Linked DNA regions of Homo sapiens. The protein of the gene in region 3 purifies or fractionates together with the protein of the main gene of each other region. This does not show direct contact. Each region holds a gene or a part of one and is shown on either strand. Other genes may lie near its edges.

What was found.
Region 1: the proteins of CARNMT1 (region 3) and BRIP1 purify together in Homo sapiens (affinity purification with mass spectrometry; 4 studies listed by BioGRID and IntAct, with this or other methods). This does not show direct contact.
Region 2: the proteins of CARNMT1 (region 3) and KLHL7 purify together in Homo sapiens (affinity purification with mass spectrometry; 3 studies listed by BioGRID and IntAct, with this or other methods). This does not show direct contact.
Region 4: the proteins of CARNMT1 (region 3) and ZBTB25 purify together in Homo sapiens (affinity purification with mass spectrometry; 4 studies listed by BioGRID and IntAct, with this or other methods). This does not show direct contact.
Region 5: the proteins of CARNMT1 (region 3) and MAP7 purify together in Homo sapiens (affinity purification with mass spectrometry; 3 studies listed by BioGRID and IntAct, with this or other methods). This does not show direct contact.
Region 6: the proteins of CARNMT1 (region 3) and KCTD3 purify together in Homo sapiens (affinity purification with mass spectrometry; 3 studies listed by BioGRID and IntAct, with this or other methods). This does not show direct contact.
Region 7: the proteins of CARNMT1 (region 3) and TAB1 purify together in Homo sapiens (affinity purification with mass spectrometry; 4 studies listed by BioGRID and IntAct, with this or other methods). This does not show direct contact.

What each region holds. Positions count from the first base shown.
Region 1 is NC_000017.11:61,780,029-61,783,528, reverse strand, and holds part of BRIP1 (Fanconi anemia group J protein), read left to right. Parts: intron 1-2,523; coding exon 2,524-2,689; intron 2,690-3,127; coding exon 3,128-3,268; intron 3,269-3,500. UniProt on the Homo sapiens protein: DNA-dependent ATPase and 5'-3' DNA helicase required for the maintenance of chromosomal stability. Acts late in the Fanconi anemia pathway, after FANCD2 ubiquitination.
Region 2 is NC_000007.14:23,164,785-23,168,284, reverse strand, and holds part of KLHL7 (kelch-like protein 7), read right to left. Parts: intron 2,588-3,500; coding exon 2,347-2,587; intron 450-2,346; coding exon 248-449; intron 1-247. UniProt on the Homo sapiens protein: Substrate-specific adapter of a BCR (BTB-CUL3-RBX1) E3 ubiquitin ligase complex. The BCR(KLHL7) complex acts by mediating ubiquitination and subsequent degradation of substrate proteins. Probably mediates 'Lys-48'-linked ubiquitination.
Region 3 is NC_000009.12:75,011,294-75,014,793, forward strand, and holds part of CARNMT1 (carnosine N-methyltransferase), read right to left. Parts: intron 1-3,500.
Region 4 is NC_000014.9:64,493,839-64,497,338, forward strand, and holds part of ZBTB25 (zinc finger and BTB domain-containing protein 25), read right to left. Parts: intron 1,722-3,500; exon of another isoform or gene 1,405-1,721; intron 1-1,404. UniProt on the Homo sapiens protein: May be involved in transcriptional regulation.
Region 5 is NC_000006.12:136,540,423-136,543,922, forward strand, and holds part of MAP7 (ensconsin), read right to left. Parts: intron 1-3,500. UniProt on the Homo sapiens protein: Microtubule-stabilizing protein that may play an important role during reorganization of microtubules during polarization and differentiation of epithelial cells. Associates with microtubules in a dynamic manner.
Region 6 is NC_000001.11:215,573,804-215,577,303, forward strand, and holds part of KCTD3 (BTB/POZ domain-containing protein KCTD3), read left to right. Parts: coding exon 1-36; intron 37-263; exon of another isoform or gene 264-269; coding exon 270-315; intron 316-2,097; coding exon 2,098-2,171; intron 2,172-3,500. UniProt on the Homo sapiens protein: Accessory subunit of potassium/sodium hyperpolarization-activated cyclic nucleotide-gated channel 3 (HCN3) up-regulating its cell-surface expression and current density without affecting its voltage dependence and kinetics.
Region 7 is NC_000022.11:39,406,280-39,409,779, forward strand, and holds part of TAB1 (TGF-beta-activated kinase 1 and MAP3K7-binding protein 1), read left to right. Parts: intron 1-3,500. UniProt on the Homo sapiens protein: Key adapter protein that plays an essential role in JNK and NF-kappa-B activation and proinflammatory cytokines production in response to stimulation with TLRs and cytokines.

The DNA.
Region 1 (3,500 bases), on a different chromosome or scaffold from region 3:
TACAACTCAGTGCCATTAAGTACAGTATATTTGCAATGTTGTACATTGTACTCATTTCCAGAGATTTCCAGAAATTTTTTATTATTCCAAATAGGAATTCTGTACCCATGAAATAATAACCCCTAGAGTCTTTCCCCTCATCACCTGCTAACCTGTATTCTATTTTCATCTTATGAAGTCCTTTCTAGGTATTTCACATAAGAGCGATCATACAATGTTTGTCTTTTTGTGTCTGGCTTATTTCAATTCATTTGGCACAGTGTTTTCAGAGTTCATTTATGTAGTAGCATATATCAGAATTTCATTCCTTTCTATGGCTGAATAATACTCCATTGTATGTATATACCACAATTTGTTAATTTATTCTTATGTTAATGGACATTTGGGTTGTTTTCATCTTTTGCCTATTGTAAACAATGCTACTATGAACGTTGGTGTACAAATATCTGAGTTCTGCTTTCAGTTCTTCTGGGTGTATATAAGTACCTAGCAGTGGAATTGCAGAATCATATGGTAATGCTGCATTTAACTTTTTGAGGACTCACCATACTGTTTCTCACAGCAACTGCATTATTTTCCATTCTCATTATCAATGCACAAGGGTTCCAATTTCTACACATCCTTGCCAACAGTTTATGTAGCAGCATATATCAGAATTGTTTTTGCTGACACTCGTTATTTTATTTTTTGTATAATAGCCATCCTAATAGGTATCAAGTGATATCATCTGGTTTTTATTTGTATTTCCTAATGACTAGAGAAGTTGAGAATCTTTTCATGTGCTTATTGGCCAATTGTATGTCTTTTTTTGGAGAAATATCTATTGAAGTCTTTTGCCCACTTTTGAATTATTGGGTTTTTTTGTTGTTGTTGTTGAGCTGTAGTTATTTAGATATTCTGGATGTCAGTCCTGTAAGAGATATATACTTTACAAATATTTTCTCTCATTCTGTGGGTTGTTTTTTCATTTATTCATAGTGTCCTTTGATGCAGAAAAGGTTTTTAATCTTGTTGAAGTCCAATTTATCTTTCTCTTTTCTTGTTGTTGCCTGTACTTTTAGTGTCACATCCAGTAAATCATGGCCAAATCTGATATGAAGATTTCCCCTATGTTTTCTTTTCCTTTTTTTTTTTTTTTTTCTGAGACGGGAGTCTCGCTCTGTCACCCAGGTTGGAGTGCAGTGGCGCGATCTCGGCTCACTGCAAGCTCAGCCTCCCGGGTTCATGCCATTCTCCTGCCTCAGCCTCCCGAGTAGCTGGGACTACAGGCGCCCGCCACTAAGCCCGGCTAATTTTTTGTATTTTCTAGTAGAGACGGGGTTTCACCGTGTTAGCCAGAATGGTCTCGATCTCCTGACCTCGTGATCCGCCCACCTCGGCCTCCCAAAGTGCTGGGATTACAGGCGTGAGCCATCGCACCCGGTCTCCCCTTTGTTTTAAGAGTTTTACAGTTTTTGGCTCCCAGTATTTTTATAAGATTCTCTCCACAGTTGTTAAGTTCCCAACTTTAATTTTGAGATCTAATCTCTCTAGGAGTGAAATGAATAAGGAAATACTATAGCGAAGACATGGTAGAGAATATCACATTTTACTTTTTTTTTTTTTTTTGAGATGGAGTCTTGCTCCGTCACCCAGGCTACAGTGCAGTGGCGCTATCTCAGCTCACTGCAACCTCCACCTCCCGGGTTCAAGTGATTCTCCTGCCTCAGCCTCCTGAGTAGCTGGGGTTACAGGCGACTGCCACCACACCTGGCTAATTTTTGTATTTTTAGTAGAGACGGGGTTTCACCATGTTGGCCAGGCTGGTCTCGAACTCCTGACCTCGTGATCCACCTGCCTCGGCCTCCCAAAGTGCTGGGATTACAGGTGTGAACCACCGCGCCTGGCCACATTTTATTATTTTTAAGCTTAACCATTTTCTAGATTCTTATTGAAAGCAGTTATACACTGGATGGGATCACAGATATCATCTGGTTCAGCACCTTCATTAAAAGTAGATGAAGGCTGAGACTCAGGTTTCAAAGGAATGTAAGAATTTTATAACTTGTTGCTAATACTTTAAAAACTTTCAGTAAAAATTATCCTTCTATTTTCTCATTTAATAAAAAAGTATAACCCACCTTTTAGTCTCTTTAACCATAATACTGTTTTCTATTTTGTAACTCATCATGTAGTAGAGCATGCAGAGAGCTCTGGACTGGGAGTTAGGAGGCCTGGATTTTAATTCTGCTTCTGCCATGACATATGTAATGTTTGAAAATGAGGTTAGGAAGTAGCTGATAAAAGATAGATGGTTAGATGATTTCTAATATTCCCTCTGAGAATCAGTTGATTCTATGATTAATGGCTTTATTAATATCAGAATTACTGAATTTAATTAATGGTAAGGAGAATGTTATTTTTGAATGGGAAGGTACCAGCTCTTTCAAATGAGTTTTAATGTAATCAGTTTTTATATTGTATGTAGCTGGGTCATAGGTTTTAAAAGTTTTGCCACTTAATTAGCACTTTCTTTGCATCTAGATTTGCAGATGATTATAAAATTGCGATTCAACAGACTTACTCCTGGACAAATCAGATTGATATTTCAGACAAAAATGGGTTGTTGGTTCTACCAAAAAATAAGAAACGTTCACGACAGAAAACTGCAGTTCATGTGCTAAACTTTTGGTGCTTAAATCCAGCTGTGGTAAGCTCATCATGTAAATGGAAATTTTGTCTTCTTGCTCAGTACCAGCATTTTAATAAATGTGGTTGACTCTTTTAAAGATAGTTGTTTGTTGTTGTTGTTGTTGTTGTTTTGAGGCAGGGTCTTGCTCTTCACCCAGGCTGGAGTGCAGTGGTGCAATCTCAGCTCACTGTAGCCTTGACCTTCCAGGCTCAAGCGATCCTCCCACCTTAGCTTCCCGAGTAGCTGGGACTATAGGCATGTGTCACCATGCCCGGCTAATTTTTGTATTTTTTGTAGAGACGGGGTTTCACCATATTGCCCAGGCTGGTCTCAGACTCCTAGACTCAAGCGATCTTCCTGCTTCAGCCTCCCAAAGTGCTGGGATTACAGGTGTGAGCCACTTTGCCCAGCCTCTTCTAAAGATAATTTTATTTATCTAATGTTGTTTTCTTTTAGGCCTTTTCAGATATTAATGGCAAAGTTCAGACCATTGTTTTGACATCTGGTACATTATCACCAATGAAATCCTTTTCGTCAGAACTTGGTGTTACATTTACTATCCAGCTGGAGGCTAATCATATCATTAAAAATTCACAGGTTAGTTGTTGTTTTTTTTTTTGGAAGGCCTTCAGTGTTTCTACTTCAATATAACTATGTAAACAAGTTAGAAGATACCTGAAGTGCCAGCAAGTAAATCTTGGTAGGAAATTCAACATTCCAGTTTTACAATAAAAGAAAATCTGTCAGCTACTTAATGATGTGTCAACAGAAGGAAATAATCCAGTCACTTGGGATGCAAAAGGCTGTATTTCAGCTTCTTCTTCTAAGT
Region 2 (3,500 bases), on a different chromosome or scaffold from region 3:
TAGGCATTTATTGCACGCAGAACCAGAAAGAAAGAGGTTCCCATGGGGTGTAAGTTCAAGCCATTTCTGGTGTAAGGGAAAGGTCCAGGTCATAAATATGCCACTGACCCTAGCACACTCAAAAGTTTATATACACTCTTCACTCAAGGACAAAATTCTTCTGTTGGGTTCCTCTGGTCTTTTGACATCTCCTACAGAGCTTATAGAATACAGTTAACTGTAAAATAAATTTTAAATAGATACATACGTTTCTGTGGCAGGATCATAAACTTCACAGGAATTAAGCACTCTCCCAGAAACATTGTTTCCTAAACTTCCACCACAAACATAGATTAGGCCATTGGCTTCCACCATCCCATGGCTGCAGCGCTGGGTCAGCATGCTGGGCTTTGTGTGCCAGCTTTCAGTTCTCGTATCATAGCACTCAAATAAATACAGAGCTGAGTTTCCTGTAAAAGAAAAAGGCCCCATCATGCTTAACTTTAGTGTGTGCGGGGGTTTGGAAAGAACTGACTGTAGATCTTATTAGTTAAGGAAGGAAGAATTTAGGGTCATACGGCCATTTTCATACTCAATCAACAACAACAAAGTGTAGGAATAGTTTAAGAAAACGCTAATAATCCTGTTTGTATAGACCCTGGAAAACATCCTTAAAAGGATCTGTTGGAAATACTTATTTATTGGTAATTAAACTTTAGAAAAATAAATTTGATTTCAAAAGAAAAATTAAATAAGAAGCCTTATATATGTCTTCAAGCCCCATTATGCATGACGGGAATTATCCATACTTCAAATGTTTATATAAAGTGGAAAAGCATAATAGTTCCTTACAGATGGTAGACCCATACCTTAAAATATGAAAACTACTATCTGATCATATTCTTATTTAATATTCTGGAATAGCTACAGCACCATTAACAAAATTATATTTCCTAACTATTCTCAGTTAGTGTGGTATATCCTGAAATCACACTGGTCCCTGCTTGAGTATATTCTCAAAATATTGATGTATATTTCTGATGTATTTTGATTACACAATTTAAAGGCAAAACATACATTCATCATGTTTTGAAACTTCTACACACTGTAGGAGTTCAATAAAAAATTTTAGAAATGATACTATTAAAGTTTAAGTGCTTTTTTTTTTCCTTCCCAAGGACAAAAAATTTTAGAAGTTACCAAACTATTTCTCATCTCCCACCATTCTGGGCTAATATCAAATGATTTAAAAACGACAACACCTTTATAATTCTGCGTTGCAACTAAGGTCTGTGAAAAGTAAAGATCAGAAAATAACAACTAGAAGAAGCAATGGTCATGACCAAAAATAACTTATTTTTAACTTTTTAAACATTCCTGATTTGGTAGGTTCAGTGGGTGGACACTATAGGAAAATATATAGTATATAGTAGATTAAAAAAAAACTACTACTTAAGCTAAAAACACACTTAGCAAAGGCTGAAGAAATGAAGTTATCTGCAGTACCACAGAACAGTTACCGTCTATCATCTTTAGGATTTATTGTATTTGAAATATTCTACATTATAACAGTCTGTGAAGAATGCTTTTAAAGAGAGGAAATGGTTACATTTAGGAAATAGTGATTTTTCTTGTATTCATTTGACATATAGTTGAGGGTAAAAACATAAGTATGCAGACCAAAAGTATAACCATTTACGGTCTCCCTAGTTTTCTTTATTAGCCCATTATTTAAGCTAAAGAAATTACTTGAAAATGAAAGCATACAAAAGCTATTATGTATCTAGCCTGCACCTATTCATTTAGAAAAATTATTCATTTAGAAAAAGAGCACTACTGGACACTAACACACTATCCAATAAGGTTTTTATATCCACACCCACATCCCATTCTGCTCAATAAGCATAAATACCACTACAGTCATTAAAAACTTAAAGAATAAAACAAATGAAAAAGAGCATTCTTTTTTCTAATAAAAAGAAAGCAAATATAATACAAATTTTAAAAGCCTGAATATAGTAACGAGTTCTTAAAGAGTCTATAAGTTGAACTCTGAAATCTTTAAAACAAATAATATTATGCAGCCCAAATAATTTAGAACTATAATTCAGATAATGTCAACTAATGCTTCATTATGATAAAAAAAATGGGCCATTAATCTAGGAAGCTAAAGTTCTGTAATTTAATGGTTTGTAAAGCAACGACATAAACCTTCAGGGAGATGAGCTCTAAAATGTGACAAACACATATTTAAATTACCAAGAAAGTATCTGGACAAATAATACCAGCTGTTTATTTAAATATGAAAGCCAAGATACTTGGCTTTAAAGCATATGCCCCAAACCAAAATACTTAAGAAGTCCTTACCTACTTCTGAACCTCCAGATGTATAAATTTTGCCTTCTGCAGCACATGCAGCAAGGCTGTCTCGAGGTGTCGGAGGACCCAGTTTCGAATACCAGCTATCCTTCACTACATTATAGCAGTCCATTCGCTTTATTGGGAAAAGCTGAGAGCCTCCCAAAATGTATACTACATTGTCCCAAAACACGCATGCTGCATCTCTTCGTTTTTCAAAGGGGCAGCGGATGTCTGTCCAGCTATAATCCTGTAGCAGAAAAGGATGGGAAGCTTTCAGTAAGGAAAAAAATATAACTGAAAAGGACAATGCAAAGATACAGTCAAAAAACATATAAGAATATGTTAATTTATTAGACTACACATACAAATGTTTGGCTTGAGACTATTACCAATTTAATCTTGTGTGGTTTCTGCAGAATGTTGATTAGATGGGGCGGAGGGCAAAAGGCAGGCACATGACTGCTTTGGGTCCTTTCTGGCTCTAAAATAAACTTAAATATATTTGGATATACCATCACCACCCTGTCTTCTATTCCTTCTGTTATTGAAGACAATACAAGAAGATTCTAAAATAAGTTGTTTTATTTTTTAAAAAAGCTTTTTCAAATGTAAAGGTCTCCATCCCTTCCCTGCCAGATATATAGTGTGATATAAGTAATCAATGGATAATATGAAGCTCAAATTGCCATTATCCTACTGATAGTCTAAAGCCAGAAGGTATTTTGTGGACTTCTTTATTAATTTTCTATATTGAGTTGAGCCAATGTAGTCAGCTGGACTTTAAAACTGTTGATGTTTATAAGGAAATACTTGAGTAATCTCTTCTAAGTACTCTGGATACTCACTTTTCACCCCAATGATTAGAAATACACACCTATCAGTACTTGACAGTAAGGGCTGTTCACAGCATCTGTTTCTTCACTATGTTTGATAGCATCGAAGAATGCTTGTGCCGCCCTTCCATGTATGTGCATGGGGGGATGCCCCTAAAGTTATAGTATCTTGGACCCTCTCTTTTTTTGAGATAGGAAGCTACAGCGTTCCTGCTATTTTCTGAAAATAATCAGGGTCAGATAGGAATTCATACCATTCCCAATCTCACCAAGGAAAGCACTATGTGTGATTATTGAGTTTCCTTCGAGAAAATCTGACTGATAACC
Region 3 (3,500 bases):
CTACCTCCTGGTCCCCATGTCTTGTTTCTACCCAACAGAATATGGCAAAGGTGATGAGATGTCCCTCCTGTGATTGTCATTATTATTATTATTATTGAGACAGGGTCTTGCTCTGTTGCCCAGGCTGGAATGCAGTAATCTTATCACTGCAACTTTGAATTCCTGGGCTCAAATGATCCCCTTGCCAGGCATCCACCTCCAGAGTAGCCAGGACTATACAAGTGCATGCCACCTCACCTAATATTCAAATTTTTAGTAGAGATGAGGTCTCACTACATTGCCCAAGTTGGTCTTGAATTCCTGGCCTCAAGTGATTCTCCCATCTCAGTCTCTCAAAGTACTGGGATTATAGACATGAGCCTTGACACCCAGCTCTGTGACTGTTCAACACTGTAAGACGGTTGACAGCTTGCTTGATCTAGACACCCTCCTTGCTGGCTTGATGAAGTGGTCCTTTTGGGAAAGACAAGGAACTGTGGGTTGCCTCTAGGAGATGAGGCAGGCTTCCAACTGACAAACAGAGAGCAGCTAAGACCCTCAGTCCTACAGCCACAGTGAAAACAATTCTGCCTCACTACTACAACTGCAATTAAACAAAATGAAATATGAGTGACAGATTCTTCCCCAGTCAAGTCTCCAGGTGAAAACACAGCCCGGCAGACACGTGGATTGCTGCCTTGTAAGCTCCTACACAGAAGAACCAGTTAAGCCAAGCCCAGACTCCTGACCCATAGCAACTGAAATCAATGTGTTATGCAGCAATCCCACTTCTAAGAATTTAAATTAAAGATACTCTCCTGCACACATACCCGATGAAAGGAACTGAGATTTTTCTGCTAGCAAATGTGAGCTTCAAGGTCTTGATGCCAAACACTATATATCCTTGACCATTTGAGATGTGACTGAATATCACTTATATCTGAGCTCTGAATGTACATTAATATGTTGGGTCAGTTAAGAGCCCAGGTACTGAGGGTCTTCAAGTTTTTGGTTTTTTTTTTTTTTTTTTCTTTGAGATAGCCTTGCTCTACTGGCCAGGCTGGAGTTCAGTGGCATGATCTTGACTCACTGCAACCTCTGCCTCCCAGGTTCAAACAATTCTCCTGCCTCAGACTCCTGAGTAGCTAGAATTACAGGTGTGCACCACCATGCCCAGCTAATTTTTGTATTTTTAGTAGAGACGGGGTTTCGCCATGTTAGCCAGGCTGATCTCGAACTCTTGACCTCAAGTGATCCATCCGGCTCAGCCTAAGTGCTGGGATTACAGGCGTGAGCCACCACACCTGGACAGGTCTTCAAGTTTTAAGAATTTTTTAAAAATTTGAGCTCCATTTTTCTTCAGAATGATCCATGCCCAAATACAGAACTATGTTGACAGTGGGTTACAGAGTTTGCACGGCAAAGTTCAAGTTGTTACACTGTGTTTTTAAAAAATCTTATCTACCCCGTCTCTACTAAAAATATAAAAAAAAAAATTAGCCAGGCGTCGTGGCGGGCGTCTGTAGTCCTAGCTACTCGGGAGGCTGAGGCAGCAGAATGGCGTGAACCCGGGAGGCGGAGGTTGCAGTGAGCCGAGATCGTGCCACTGCACTCCAGCCTGGGCGACTGAGCAAGACTCCGTCTCAAAAAAAAAAAAAAAATCTTATCTATATGTACTGTTAAATCAGAGACCATGAGATCTACTTATCAGAACCAGGAAGATAAATTCTTCAGAGCTATTTCAACTGATACTTCTTTTCCTCAAAACTTGGTGGACTGTCGGGGAAAGGGCCCCACAATTTTTTGTCTTTGATATTAGCTCCAATTCTCATAAGTATATACAGGCCCTATAATTGCAGCAGAAAAAGATGCATGATGGAAAATCTCCATAACCCATGCACGGAGACCTGAAAAATCATCCTTACTGGGTATAATTTATTATGGTGCAATTAAGTGCCAACTGATATTTCTCACCATGGACTGGTCAGGAACTGCTGCAAAGAAAAATAAACAGATCCTTCTGCATTATTTATATTCTAAAATGTGGTAAGGGGAAATCAGGAGAAATTTCTTCTGAAATTATATTATGGATTTTTTAAAAGATTATCAAATAAAGTTATTTTTAAATAAAAATTAAAGTTATACCTCCAATAATATAAAAATACATATGCATAAAGTTATTAATTTTAGCATTATGTATAATTGCTAGATACTGCCAACTACCTAAATAACCTAACGTAGGAGAAAGTTGGTTGAATAAACTATGATACATCCAAATAACAGAGTAATCTTCAGCTGGGAAAAAAAAAAATGACTGAAGATCTCTGTGAAATGACAGCATAGCTATTTCCAGGATACACTAAGTGAAAAAAGCAAGGTACAGAATACATGTATGCTATATTATCTTTTGTGGATGACCAAAGAGGGTAATTATAAAGAAAAACAAAAAGGCCAGGCACAGTGGTTTATGCCTGTAATCCCAATATTTTGGGAGGCAGAGGCAGGAGGATCACTTGAGGCCGGGAGTTCAAGACCAGCCTGTTCAACATAGCAAGACCCCTGCCTCTACAAAAAATACTAAAAAATTAGCTGGGAGGCTGAGGTGGGAGGAGTACTTGAGCCCAGGAGTTTAAGGCTACAGTGAGCTACGATAACACCACTGCACTACAGCCTGGATGACAGAGCAACACTTTGTGTCAAAAAAAAGAGAGAGAGAGAGAAAAAAAAAAAAACCACATCCACTTACTTAAAAAAAAAAAAAAAAAAAAACCCCAAGAATAAAAGGATGAATAAACAAGATGCCAATGATACTGATTATCCAAATGGGGTATAGAATAAAGGGAGGGAATAAAACACCAGGAGGCTGAAGATTAAAGGGAGAGCTAATTTGGGTAAACTGCAAAGAATAAATTCACTATACAACCTTAGTCTAAGGGAAAAATAACTATTAGCAAATCCCGAACTCCTTTTAGTAGGTTTCTTTTTCACAGAGGTATGGATGAAGCAATTCTGAAACCATTCTGTGTGTACTGTAGACAACTGGGCGAATAAGTAAACGTATTGATGTTGTTGGAAGTGAGGTAAACAGATACAGAAAAGAGGGAAAACCAAGGATAACCCTATAGAGTTGGGACTGGAATTAAGAGTTATCAGTATGAACCACAGTAAATTATGAAACTTGAATATAGACTGTAAATTACCTAACAGTATTCAGGGTTAAATTTTCTCAATGGTTTCAGACACACACATACATAATGCAAGGGAAAGAGGGAGGGAGGGAAGACGGAAGAGGAAACAATAAAAGCAAATGTGGCAAAATGTTAAAAACTGGTGAATTCAAGTAAAAAGTATAAGTGAATTCAGGAGGTCTCCATATAATTCATGCAATTTATCTGTAATTTTAAAGTTATTTCAAAATAGTTAAAATAGCCAGGCATAGTGGTAGGTGTCTGTAATCCCAGCTACTCGGGAGGCTGAGGAACAAGAATCACTTGAGCCCAGGAGGCGGAGGTTGCAGTAAG
Region 4 (3,500 bases), on a different chromosome or scaffold from region 3:
CACCTCAAAAAAAAAAAAAAGAAGAAGAAGAATAGGGGTTTCACTTCAGACACTCTGAGCTCCAAGTGTCTACCAGGTATCTAAGTAGAAATGTTTAGTGATCAGCGGGGACAAGAAGCAGGACAGGGCTCTAGAGAGAGCAGAGCCAGAGAGGGAGAAGAGGCCTCTGAAACGACAAGGCTGAAGTAACCAAGTATGAAAATAATAAAGTAGACTAAAAAGTAGAATGAAATAAGAGGGAAAAAAGCTAAGAATGAATCTTTGGAAAACAGAAAAGACAAAATAAGACAGAGGAGGAGAAAAAAGAAAACATCGTCATTGAGGAAAGGCAATGACCTTGCAGAAAGGAGATGGCAATGGTGCAAAACACTGAAGAGAAACATGGGGGTGAGGCCCATTACAAACATGTCGAGTGTACTGACCAAAAGATTCCTGGTAACCTCTGACAATAGTACAGGAAAGCAGCAAGGGCCAAATATCTGACTGCAGGGGATATTAGAAACCAGAGGCTAGGCCAAGCGCAGTGGCCCACGCCTGTAATCCCAGCCCTTTGGGAGGACAAGGTGAGTGGACCACTTGAGGCCAGGAGTTTGAGACCAACCTGAACAACATGGTGAGACCCCGTCTCTACTCAAAATACAAAAATTAGCCAGGTGTGGTAGCACATGCCTGTAATCCCAGCTACTTGGGAGGTTGAGGCAGAAGAATCACTTGAACCCAGGAGGCAGAGGTTGCAGTGAGCTGAGATCCACTGCACTCCAGCCTGGGCAACAGAGCGAGACTCTGTCTCAAAAAAAAATAAAAAAATAAAAATAAAGAAACCAGAGGGTATAAAGCTTAGACACAGACATGACAGGACAGGACATTAAGGAAGCTGCAGATCAGAAGACCCAAACATACCTCTTCCCTTTACATATGAAAGAAACCTGGAGTAATAAACTCTGAAACTTACATAGAGCACTGAAGTTTACAGAGAACTTTCATATACAATAACTTATTTCTCTACTTCAGATTAGATAATTTCTATTAATCTATCCTCAAATTAAATGACTTATCTGTCATATCTGATCTGTTAAATCTATTCAAGATTGTTTCAGATATTGTATTTTCAGATGTAAAATTTTCATTTCATTCTTTTTTAAAGTTTCTAATTCTCTGCTGAGATTTCCTATTTGTTCACATATACAACATTTTGCTTTACATCCTTGAGCATAGTTATAATAGCTGCTGCTTTAAATCTTCTCTGCTAAATCCAACCTTTGGCTAATTATGGGGTCAGTCTCCACTGATTAGGGTGATTGTTTCTGGATTATAGTCTAGGTATTGTGATTAATACAATTCACTCTAGATTCTGTAATATTCTTCCAAAGAGTGTTTGTGTTTTTGTTTTTTGCAGACAATTACCTTAGCTGGACTTAAACTCCAAGTTCTGCCTCCCCTATGGTGGACAGCAGCTGAAATCTCTGCTCCTTTAGCCTTAAGTGTGCTGTTTGGAGGCTGCTCCACACATGTACAGTTGAGGGGTTTGCAAGAAATTCAAGCAGAGTTTATAAACAGTGTTTGGGGTTCTGCCACTCCAACATTCTTTCTAGGATTTTCTCCTGCACTTTCCAGCTGCATGATCACTGTGAGCTCTGTCCTCTTTTCTTCAAGAGAGATTACAGGTTGTTATTACAGTTGTAGCCACCTCTTCATATCACCAGCTGGGACCTTATGCCAGTCTAAAAGCCATAAAAACAGAAGCTTATTCATTGCTGTTCTCCTCTTCCAGTTGCAGACCTCAATCTAGTTTTTGTAATTCTCAAATGCCATCTATTAATTTTTAAAACTTTTATCAGCTGGGCGTAGTGGCTCATGCCTGTAATCCCAGAACTTTGGGAGGCAGAGGCGGGCAGATCACCTGAGGTCGGGAGTTCGAGACCAGCCTGGCCAACATGGAGAAACCCCATCTCTACTAAAAATACAAAATTAGCGGGTGTGGTGGCACATGCCTGTAATCCCAGCTACTCTGGAGGCTGAGGCAGGTGAACTGCTTGAACCTGGGAGGCAGAGGTTGCGGTAAGCTGAGATCACGCTACTGCACTCCAACCTGGGCAACAAGAGCGAAACTCCATCTCAAAAGGAAAAAAAAAAAAAGTGTATCAAGTTTATAGTTATCTGCAGGAAACTGTCCTGATAGGAACTATTCAACCATTACCCCCTCCCCCAACATTGTGTTCTTTTTAAACGAAAGCAATTTATTAGAAAATAAATAAAAGAATGGCTACTCCATAGGCAGAGCAGCCCTACTCAACCATTACTGTTTATCAGCAGTTCTAAAAAGCTGTGGTCTCAAGATCCACTCACACTCTAAAAAGTATTACAGACCAGTCACGGTGGCTCACGCCTGTAATCCCAGCACTTTGGGAGGCCAAGGCAGGCGGATCACAAGGTCAGGAGTTCAAGACCAGCCTGGCCAACATGGTGAAACCCCGTCTCTACTAAAAATACAAAAAAAAAAGCTGGGCACAGTGGCGTGTGCCTGTAATCCCAGCTACTCGGGAGGCTGAGGCAGGAGAACTGTTTGAACCGGGACCTGGGAGGAAGAGGTTGCAGTGAGCCGAGATCACACCACTGCATTCCAGCCTGGGCTACAGAGCGAGACTCCATCTCAAAAAAAAAGTATTAGAGATTGTGAAGAGCTGTTGTTTATATAGGTTATATTTATCAATATTTACTATATTCAAAATTAAAAGAAATTTTAAAATATTTAAAATAGCAATAAACCCATTACATATTAACATATTTTTTCCTAAAAAATTTTTCAAAAACAAGTGAGAAGGGTGATATTAATTTACATTTTGCAATCCTCTTTAATATCTGGCTTTAACAGATACAGCTGGACTCTCTTATCTGATTCTGCATTCAATCTGTTGTCATCTCTTGTTTTGGTTCAAGTATATTGAGAATCTGTTCTTACATAAGGGAGATCCTTATTGACCCATGAAACCTCCAGTGGCTCCTTGGACTACACTTTGAGAACCACTGCCCTACACTATCTTTTTTTCTTTTAAATCTTGTGAGGTAGTAGAGCAGGTACTATCAGCTCTATTTTATGGCTGAGAAACCACAGGCTCAGAGAAGGCAGGAAACATACCTGAAGTCAAACAACTAGCTATTAAATGGTGCTGATAATACATCAAGACTGAGTTTAAACCCAGGGCCCTTTCTTCAAAACCCCATCTAGAACTTTCAACATTTACACTGTTGGCAGATTTTGCAAATATGTTGAATCAAATAAGGGAGTAAACTTTTCAAGTGTATAAAATGAAACAAATTAAAATCTATTAAAAAAAAAACACCAAGTACACATGAGGTGCATTCAAACTTGTTTTGCATAATAGGAGATCTTTGATGTTGTAATATACCAGATTTTACTTCAAATCAATAGCCCCATTCCATTGAGTTATTAGAACATTTTCTAATACAACCTACTCTGCAAATTATTAGCTAGACTTTTT
Region 5 (3,500 bases), on a different chromosome or scaffold from region 3:
AGGCAAAGTCAAAACAAAAGCTGAATGGTATTTTGTCTCACTGCACATATTCATACAGAAATGTGCGTACATGTGGACACTGAGTATATGTGTGCATACTTAGCTATTCAATTGTACTCATAACTGTATTCACATCTATATTTCCTTCAAAAAAGTCCTGGGGCAAAATAAGAGACAACCTGAGTAAACTCACTAGACTTAGGGCAATTGCTATTACGATTTTCCATGTGGTTTCCATAAGCAAGGTGCACACACTTGACACCACACACCACAATAGTCAAATGGAAGGGAATACAATAGGAAATGGTTCTGAATCATTAGTTCTCAGCACTGATTGCACACCAGACCATCTGGGGAATTTTAAAAACACTGCCACCTGACTCCCATCCTGCAAGATTCTCAGATAATTACCTTGGATGCCACCTGGGCATCCTGATATTTAAATGGTCCCCAGGTGATTTTTAATCACTGCCAAGATTGAGAGCCAATGATGTGAATCAATGATACTCCAGCACATGGGCGCAATAATCATTTCAACAACATAACCTTGGGGTCAAGGAGTGACCCATATTTAAATGAACCCACCACGCCTGTGGTGAAGTTGTCACTGAACTAATTTGGAGCATCTACCATGAATAGAAACCAGTCCAGCTGGAATGCAAGAAGTAAGCAACCAGGTCCTGTCTGGTGCGCCTGCCACCCCAAAGGCTTGGGTCAGGAGCTTCTGAGAACCAGAAGCCCAGATTCGAATCTTGAGAAGCAGCCAAAAGTTTTGCTACAGGAACACATCTTACAGCCAATTATTATGCATGTTATTGCCACCAAGTAGGCTTCATGATGAGGGGTGGAGGTGCTAAGGAAGGGCTCCTTTCTAGAACTTCACCTTGACATTTAAACTGATCCTAGAGAACTTTTCTACATTCAACAGTGTTGGGGAAATGAGTTTTATACTCAGAGGTTATGCCATAGTGAAGGATAGTTCTCTTTACTAGAAAGCCAACTCCAAAAAGGAAGCTTACATATCATTTAATTTTAAAAGTCACAGAATTAGAAATTTTAAGATACCCCAAATCTCAATACTCTAAACTTAAAGATATATCATTTACTAACAGTGCCTATGAAGTGCAGCTCACATATGCCAAGTGCACTGCTCCCAGCCTCCTCCCTGCATTGTTTTATACCCCGTGCTCCTCTGTGCCATCTGGTCAGGTGTGTCAATCCTCCTTGGCACTTTCTCATGATTCTTTTTTTCACAACTATTTCTATAGGAGCATCAAGGATGAAGAACAGTTGAATGCAGTTTTTCTCAGTGTCAAATACTATATATTACTCTTCAAATCAAAATTCAAAGTGGAGCCGGGAGTGGTGGCTCCCACCTGTAATTCCAGCACTTTAGGAGGCTGAGTTGGGCAGATCGCTTGAGCTCAGGAGTTCAAGACAAGCCTGGCCAACACGGCAAAACCCCCTCTCTACTAAAAATCCAAAAATTAGCTGGGCATGGTGGTGGGCACCTGTAGTCCCGGCTACTCGGGAGGCTGAGGCACAAGAATCATTTGAACCTGGGAGGCAGAGGTTACCGTGAGCCAAGTTCGTGCCACTGCACTCCAGCCTGGGCAACACAGCGAGACTCTGTCTCAAAAAATATATTTAAAAAAAATTTCAAAGTGGTACCTAATAAAAAAATCTTACAGATCTTTTTCAACAGGCTATTTCTCAAATTAAAAAGATACTAAAGAGAATAATAATTACTGAAGAGAAAATCCAAATGCCATTTAAATGTGTCAACAACCGTAACTCAGAGTTTTACAAGAGCTAAGATAGTAAAGAGGTAGACAACATCACCGCTAGAGAACGAGACAAACCCTAAAACTGAATTTTATAAAAAAGTATAAGCCTAAATACCATTCACATTTAGCTTACAGAACCTTAGACCATGAGCAACTGATGAAACGTCCAATGACAGACTATCAAGGCTTTACAAAGCACTGTATCTGAGAACTGGTAAGTATTCAGTTTGACAATATAAGATGTTCCAATAAGGAATTAATCAGGATAATAAACAAAGTATATGAACAATATGTCTAGCTTTCTAACAACAAAACAAGTTATTTCCAAGTTCTAGAAAGCCATATCTCAAGGGATTAGAACAGAGACCATTAAGGAGGAAGAGAGAACTTGAATTGGCAGGGAATGTGCTATATAATGGCACTTCCGTCTATAATCAACTTCAGAATGCATACTCCACAGGAAATAAGAGATACTATGGCTCTTCAAGCAAGCAATGGTGTGTTAAAATTAAAAAAAAAAAGAAATACTGTGGGGAAAAAAGAATGAAGGAGAATAAAGATATTAGAGTCAAATATAAATTCCGTATTATACCTAGGCTCTGGGATCAACACCACCTCCAGGCTTTCCTAATTCATGTGAGCATGGGTTAGCATTAAAAAGGCACTATTTTACTTTGAGGTGATTACATTGCTTTACTCAAAGAACTTGGTGGAATGGCTAAAGTTTTAAAAACAAACAAAACTAACGATACTAAGTATTAGTGAGGATGCAGGGCAACCAGAACTCACATACACTGTTTGTAAGAATGTAAAACCGTAGAGTTGCTCTGGAAAAGCTTGGCCATTTCTTATAAAGTTAAACATACAGTTACATGAATCAGCAATCCCACTCCTAGGTATTTACCCAGAATAGATGAAAACTATGCTCACACAAAAACCTGTAGGTAAGTGTTTACAGCAGCATTATTCATAATTGCCAAAACCCGGGAACAACTCAAATGTTCTTTGATAAACCATCTGTGATACTTCCATACAATGGCAAACTACTTCATCAAGAAAAAGGATGTACCACATCCTAACATGCACAACAGTGTGCCTGAATCTCAAAAACATGATGCCAGGTGAAAAATTCAGACTCAAAAGGTTACACAATGTGGGGCTGGGTGCAGCGGCTCACGCCTGTAATCCCAGCACTTTGGGATACTGAGGCGGGTGGATCACCTTTGGTCAGGAGTTCATGATCAGCCTGATGGGGTTTAGTAGAAACCCCATCTCTACTAAAAATACAAAATTAGCCGGGCATGGTGGCACATGCCTGTAATCACAGCTATCCGGGAGGCTGAGGCAGGAGAATCGCTTGAACCCAGGAGGCGGAGGAGGTTCCTGTGAGCTGAGATTGTGCCATTGCACTCCAGCCTGGGCAACAAGAGTAAAACTCCGTCTCACAAAAAAAAAGAAAAAAAGGTTACACAATGTATGATTCCACTTTTATGACATTCTGGAAAAGGCAAAACTAGGAAGATGGTAAACAGATCAGTGGTTGCCAGGGGTTAGGTGTAGGAAGAGAGTCTCACTACAAAGGTGCAGCATTAGGGAATTTAGGTTGGAGGCAGAGGACTCTTTGGGATAATGTTAACGGTGGTGCTTACATTACCTATACAGTCAACAAAACTAAAAAAAGAAAATAAAAGAAAATCCGTAATTTTTTTTGCA
Region 6 (3,500 bases), on a different chromosome or scaffold from region 3:
AACTCTTATGTGGATTCCAGATTCTTTTTTTTCCAGGTATGTCTTATAATTCTTTAGTGTATATTTTAATACATTTATTTACCAAAATATAATAATGTTTGTCAGTTAAATTTTTTTTAATAAAAAAGGTTAACTCTTAAAATTATATATTTTTGAACTTGGAAGATAGATAACTTACTTTTAGTGGTCTTTAACATTTGGTAAAGAATTAGCACATTTGTTTATACTCAGATTTTAAAAACTAACTTTAGATTATTAATGACTTCCAGTTTGCTGAGTGGGAGAATTTCAACACTTCGAGATGAAACTGGTGCTGTGAGTATAATAATAATTGATACATATTCCTAAATTAATGCTTATAGTGCTTGGTCCTAACATATAGTTACTCTAAGAATATAGGAGAACTGATATTTTAATAATCACTGAATGAAAGTGGCATAATTTTATTTCTTGTCATATGTAGTTTTTTATAATCAGAGAAGATCCCTAAGTAGGGAATACTATATATGGCAATTTAAGTATTCATGATTAGAGAGATTGTAGGATATGAGCTTACATTGGCATTAGAAGAAATTTTTTTAGATCAATAATTGAAACTTTAACAGTAAGTGGATAAATGTAAATATTCTAATATTTTTATATTAGAATATAAGAGGTTAAATTAGTAAACTCCTACAGTTTTTTATTTTATTTTGGAGAATAACCTTGCGAATTTGTTTATACAGCATTGGTACAGTGAGGGAAGGAAAGAATTGTAAAGTTTCAGTGCAAAAAAATTGGTTTATCCATTTGGAGGCAACAAAGTGACCAATGGTATTTATTTGCTGTGGTGAGATTTGCAGATGAAATAAGGCAACAAATGCAGATATGTCCATGTGAAATTATAAAAAGTTATCAATAATAAGATCTCCACAAATCTGTGATGTCTCTTCGATTTTTGATGTGCTCTAATGAAAACAAAAGAAAATTTATAAAGCTTAGAAGAATCTCATTGATTGTATATATATAGTTGATCATAGTAGGAAGAGTTTTATTACTGGCTGCCATTTCCCTTTCTAATTGATTTACATAAGCTTTAAAAGATGTTCCGTTTTTATGGCCAGATCTTTTGTAAATGATTCAAAATAGGTGTTGGTATAAATTTCCATAAAAAGTTATCAATTATGGGCTGGGTGGGGTGGCTTATGCCTGTAATTCCAGCACTTTAGGAGGTCGAGGCAAGTGGATTACCTGAGGTCAGAAGTTCAAGACCAGCATGGCCAACATGGTGAAACCCCCTCTCTACTAAAAACAGAAAAATTAACCCGGCATAGTGGCAGGTGCCTCTAATCCCAGCTACTCAGGAGGCTGAGGCAGGAGAATTGCTTGAACTTAGGAGGTGGAGGTTGCAGTGAGCCCAGATCGTGCCACTGCACTCCAGCCTAGATGAGAGAGCAGGATGCTGTCTCAAAACAAACAAACAAACAAAAGTTACCAATTATGTATTTTACATTTTTAAGCAATTTGTTTTCCTCTTATGTATTCTGTGGTGCTTTAGTTTAAAAAAAAAAAATTGTCATTACCTTTCCCCAGCTCTGAAGGAAATTGAGATTAGTAAAAGTATTATGAGAATAGTATTCTTTTCCACTTTTGACAGCAGTGTGCAGTATTTACTTTTCTCAAGTACCCCTGTGTGCATTATTAAAGTACATTGTAGTTTTAATGATTGAACAGTATAAGAAAGTATTATTTATTCATGTTTTCGAAGTATTAATTGAATTCTAGACTGTTTCAGATAAAAATGTTTCCTCAGGTGTCACTTTTACCAAAGGTATCAATACAAGTGATTTTATTAGACAAGATTTTTTCTATGTATTAAAATATCAGTTTAATAATAACTATTCAGAGGAAGAAAAAGACACCATCTCAAGAAAAAGACACCATCTCATGAAATGCACACAGACTACATTCCAATTTTAGAAACATTAAAGTTTAAGAGTGGAAACAAGGAAATGTAGTATTTAAGTAATTAAGACTTCATTCCCTATTAGTGTTACAGATATTAAAGTTAAAAGATTAATTTGTAATTTGAAAATAAAACTGTTCTCTTTTTTACAGATATTTATTGATAGAGATCCAGCAGCATTTGCACCCATTTTAAATTTTCTTCGGACAAAAGAACTAGACTTAAGGTAAGAAATGCACTCTTTTTAAAGTAAATTCTTACTGATAAATATGTGTTTTTAATATGTTTTATGAAATAAAAGGTTTTTTTTGTTTGTTTTTTTTTTTCCTTGAGTTGCAGTCTTGCTCTGTTGCCCAGGCTGGAGTGCAGGAGTGCAGTGGCATGATCTCTGCTCACTGCAACCTCCGCCTTTCAGGTTCAAACAATTCTCCTGCCTCAGCCTCCCGAGTAGCTGGGACTGTAGGCACATGCCACCATGCCCGGCTGATTTTTTGTATTTTAGTAGAGAAGGGGTTTCACTGTGTTGCCCAGGCTGATTGCAAACGCCTGAGCTCAGGCAGTCTCCCCGCCTTAGCCTCCCAAAGTGCAGGGATTACAGGAATGAGCCACTACGCCCAGCCAGAAAAGGTTTTTTTTTTTTTACTAAGACTTTGATTAAAAGTTTCCTCACACTGAAACTGGATGTGGTGGTACACGCCTATAATCCCAGCTACTCTAGAGAAGAAGCTGAGGCAGGAGGATCCCTTGAGGCCGGGAGTTTGAGGCTGCAGTGAGTTATGATCATGCCTCTGGCCAGTACTGCTGTACTGTTAACACAAATAGTTTCGAAATAGAATAAGAAAGTTTGAAGCTTTTTTTTTTTGAGACTGAGTCTTACTCTGTCACCCAGACTCACTGCAATCTCCACCTCCCGGGTTCACGCCATTCTCCTGCCTTAGCCTCCCAAGTAGCTGGGACTACAGGCACCCGCCACCACACCCGGCTAATTTTTTTGTATTTTTAGTAGAGATGGGGTTTCACCGTTTTAGTCATGATGGTCTCCATCTCCTCACCTCGTAATCCACCCGCCTTGGCCTCCCAAAGTGCTGGGATTACAGGTGTGAGCCACCGCCCCCAGACACAAAGTTTTAAGCATTTTTAATGTTAAACTAGTCATAACCAGTTTCACAAATAAAAACAATTTAACATAGTAATTGTATATATTTATCAAGGCTGGGGAATATTTTTAAAATAAGGACAAATTACAACTGAAACCTAAGATGAATTATTAGTATTATAAGTTCTGAATCTTCCATTTTTTAAAAATTTTATTTCATGTTACTTAACTTTACTACTATGAAGTAGCATCATTTCATCTGGATAACATAGCCCTTCCCAAGGCTAGTCTTTTTTTTTTTTCTATTTTATTTGTTCAACAAATATTTATTACATAACTATTTTATACAAGCACTATGCTAGGCACTGTGAGGTATACAAACATAGATCAGAAATAGATCATGCTCGCAGGGAATTTATAGTGTAATTGGGGAGATTAAGATAGATATGTATAGAAATA
Region 7 (3,500 bases), on a different chromosome or scaffold from region 3:
TCCCAGCTACTCCAGAGGCTGAGGCAGAGAATTGCTTAAACCTGGAGGGGCAGAGCTTGCAGTGAGCCAAGATCGCGCCACTGCACTCCAGCCTGGGCGACAGAGTGAGACTGTCACCAAAAAAAAAAAAAAAAAAAAAGGAATCATTTGAGTGAAAGATAGTTTCTTGAAGATGGTCAGTGGATGATTGAGGTTTGGGAATCATGGGCCTCTGGCCCTAGTTGGATTTGAGCAGTGCCTTTAGGGTAGATAGGACTTAAAAAGACAGAAAGGGACAGGCTTTGCCTTACCATGGGTACTTTTACATATGCTCTTTGGGTAATTTTTTTCTTACTCTTTCTTTATTTTTTTTTAATTTATTTTTTATTTTTGAGACGGAGTCTTGCTGTGTCGCCCAGGCTGGAGTGCAGTGGCGCCATCTCGGCTCACTGCAAGCTCTGCCTCCCGGGTTCACACCATTCTCCTGCCTCCGCCTCTGGAGTAGCTGGGACTACAGGCACCCACCACCACGCCCACCTAATTTTTTTGTATTTTTAGTAGAGACGGGGTTTCACCGTGTTAGCCAGGATGGTCTCAATCTCTTGACCTCATGATCTGCCCGCCTTGGCCTCCCAAAGTGCTGGGATTACAGGCGTGAGCCACTGCGCCCGGCCTCTGGTCACAGTTTTTTAGAGATTGTTTGGAACAGTGAGTAGAAGGCCTTGTCTGTACAAGATACACAGCTGAGTGAGATTGTTAATCTGTCAAAGGGCAAAATTCAAAACTTTCGACAGTCTGGAAGGCTGGGATGAATGCATTAAGATGTAATTCGACTGATATAAATTTAGATTTAAAACAACCTTCTATAGTAGTTTGGCTGGGGGAGACAGACATGGTAGAAACTCACAGGAAAAGGACTTTGTTATTTTACATTACATAGAGGCTAGATGCTCATCTTCTCTTGGGTATATGAAAGCTGTTGATTTGCATACTTTGATTTTCTATCCTGCCGCCTAACTGATTTCTTTTTCTGTTTGCATTAGTTTTTCATTGATTCTTTAGGGTTGCCAGGCGTACTGTCCTATCAACTGCAAATAGAAATGACTTCTTTCCCGGTTTTTATGCTCTCATTCTTTACTCTGTCTAACTGCCTGGGCTAACACCTCCAGTTCTGTGTGAAGTAATAGAGTGGGCAGCCTTGCTATGGCCCTGATCATTTGTTGTTGTTTTGTTTTTTTTTTTTGAGAGGGAGCCTCACTCTGTCTCCCAGGCTGGAGTGCAGTGGCGTGATCTCGGCTCACTGCACGCTCTGCCTCCCGGGTTCCAGCGATTCTCCTTCCTCAGCTTCCCGATAGTAGATGGGACTACAGGCGTCTGCCACCACGCCCGGCTAATTTTTTGTATTTTTAGTAGAGACGGGGTTTTGCTGTGTTAGCCAGGATGGTCTCGATCTCCTGACCTCGTGATTCGCCGGTCTCGGCCTCCTAAAGTGCTCAGATTGCAGGTGTGAGCCACCGTGCCCAGCCTAATTTTTTGTATTTTTAGTAGAGACGGGTTTTCACCATGTTAGCCAGGATGGTCTCAATCTCTTGACCTCGTGATCTGCCCGCCTCAGCCTCCCAAGGTGCTGGGATTACAGATGTGGGCCACCATGCCCAGCCCTATGGCCCTGATCTTAATGAAGTGTTCCCCACTGAGTAAGTTGCCAGCATTAGGGCTGAAGTATACAGAGTAGCATGTTCAGAAAGGAGCCATCAGTTTCTGTTTTCTGGAGTGTTTTTACCAAGAATGGACCAAGACTCCTTAGATAAACAATAGCACTAGTGTCCATACTTACTGACCCAAACACCATTTGCCAGTTTATAAAATAATAAATTCCAGAAATATTACTGCCTCAACATTATGAAAATCAGATTTCCTAAAAAAGTACTTAGCAGTGTTGAAATATCTAGACACTATTCACGGGTACTTAATGAACAAGGCACGTGCTCAGTAGATTGATTGCCGTCAGACACACAGTTTTTCTCATTTGGGAAAGTTAGTTATTCCCACATCAGCCAAATACAGCACAGCATACAGTGGTCAGTAGATCATCAGCTTACTCCTGGTCTCCTGTTGTGAAACGCTCTCAGATGAATTGTTCTTGTGCCATGACACACCAACGTGGCAAGTTCCTCAGTTGCCTGTTTGAGCTTGTTTCTTTCTTTACTTGTGGAAGACAATTTCACTGGCGTTTTTTGTTTTTGTTTTTGTTTTTTGAGACGGAGTCTCGCTCTGTCATCCAGGCTGGAGTGCAGTGGCGTGTGCGATCTCGGCTCTCTGCAACCTCCACCTCCTGGGTTCAAGCAATTCTTCTGCCTCAGCCTTCCGAGTAGCTGAGACTACAGGCGCTTGCCACCACACCCGGTTAATTTTTGTATTTTTAGTAGAGACAGGGTTTCACCATATTGGCCAGGCTGGTCTTGAACTCCTGACTTGGTGATCCACCCACCTCGGCCTCCCAAAGTGCTGGGATTACAGGATTGATCCACCGTGCCTGGCCTCACTGGCCTTTTTTAATAGTGTATGTCTAATGTGGAACAGACCCATAAGTTGCTTGGGTCTTATTTATTTGGCTGGGAAACTATGGATTTTTTTAGAAAGATTCAAGTCCTTGGAAGCCTGTGTCTGTCCCTTATGGGAATTAGATACTGGCAGAGGAGGTAACTGTGATTACAGCATCGAAGACAGGTTTTGCATTGTGGTGACACATTTGTGTTAATATTATTCATCTCATATGAGAGGATGAGTTCATCTTAATCTCATTTTTAATCACAGCCTTCTAGAAAATAGAAATATCTTTTCCTCCCATGCTTTAAAACACCTGTGGCACTTTGGGGTGCTAAATATTGACTTCTTTGGCCATCTTTTCAGGAGGAAGACATGGGATACTCCTGACTGGGTAGATGCTTTTGTATTTCTGCTTAACCTCATAATTAATTTCATTCCAGCTGGTGGCAGGAGACAGACTAGAAAAGGAGCTACCTTTGGAAGTATATTTGCCTGGTTATAGGAGACTTTTGTGAGCTCGCTGGAAATGAAAATATACTAAGCAGATCTAAGACATAGGGGATAATTGGCAACATTTATCAGTTACCTGAAGAATACTTAATTCACTGGTTATTAACTCATTCCCATGGCCCAGAGGCCTTGCACTGCCCTCCCCCCCAGGCACATACGTGCACACATATTTGCAAACACGGCATGGAGCGTCTTTCCCCTGTGCTCACTAGAGAGGCCACACCAGCCTTCTCGTGCTTCCGTAAACCTGACATGCTTTTTTCCATCTTAGGGTCTTTTTACGTTCCGCTCCCTCTGCCTGGAAGCCTCCTTCTCTGCCTTCTAGAAGGTCACTGCCCCATAGTCATTCAGGTCTGGCTCAGACGTCACCTCCCCAGAGAGGTCTGCTTTTCTGACCACTTCATCTAGAGGCCCCCACCGCCCATCACGCTGTGTCCCATTACCATGGTGTGTTTTCTTCC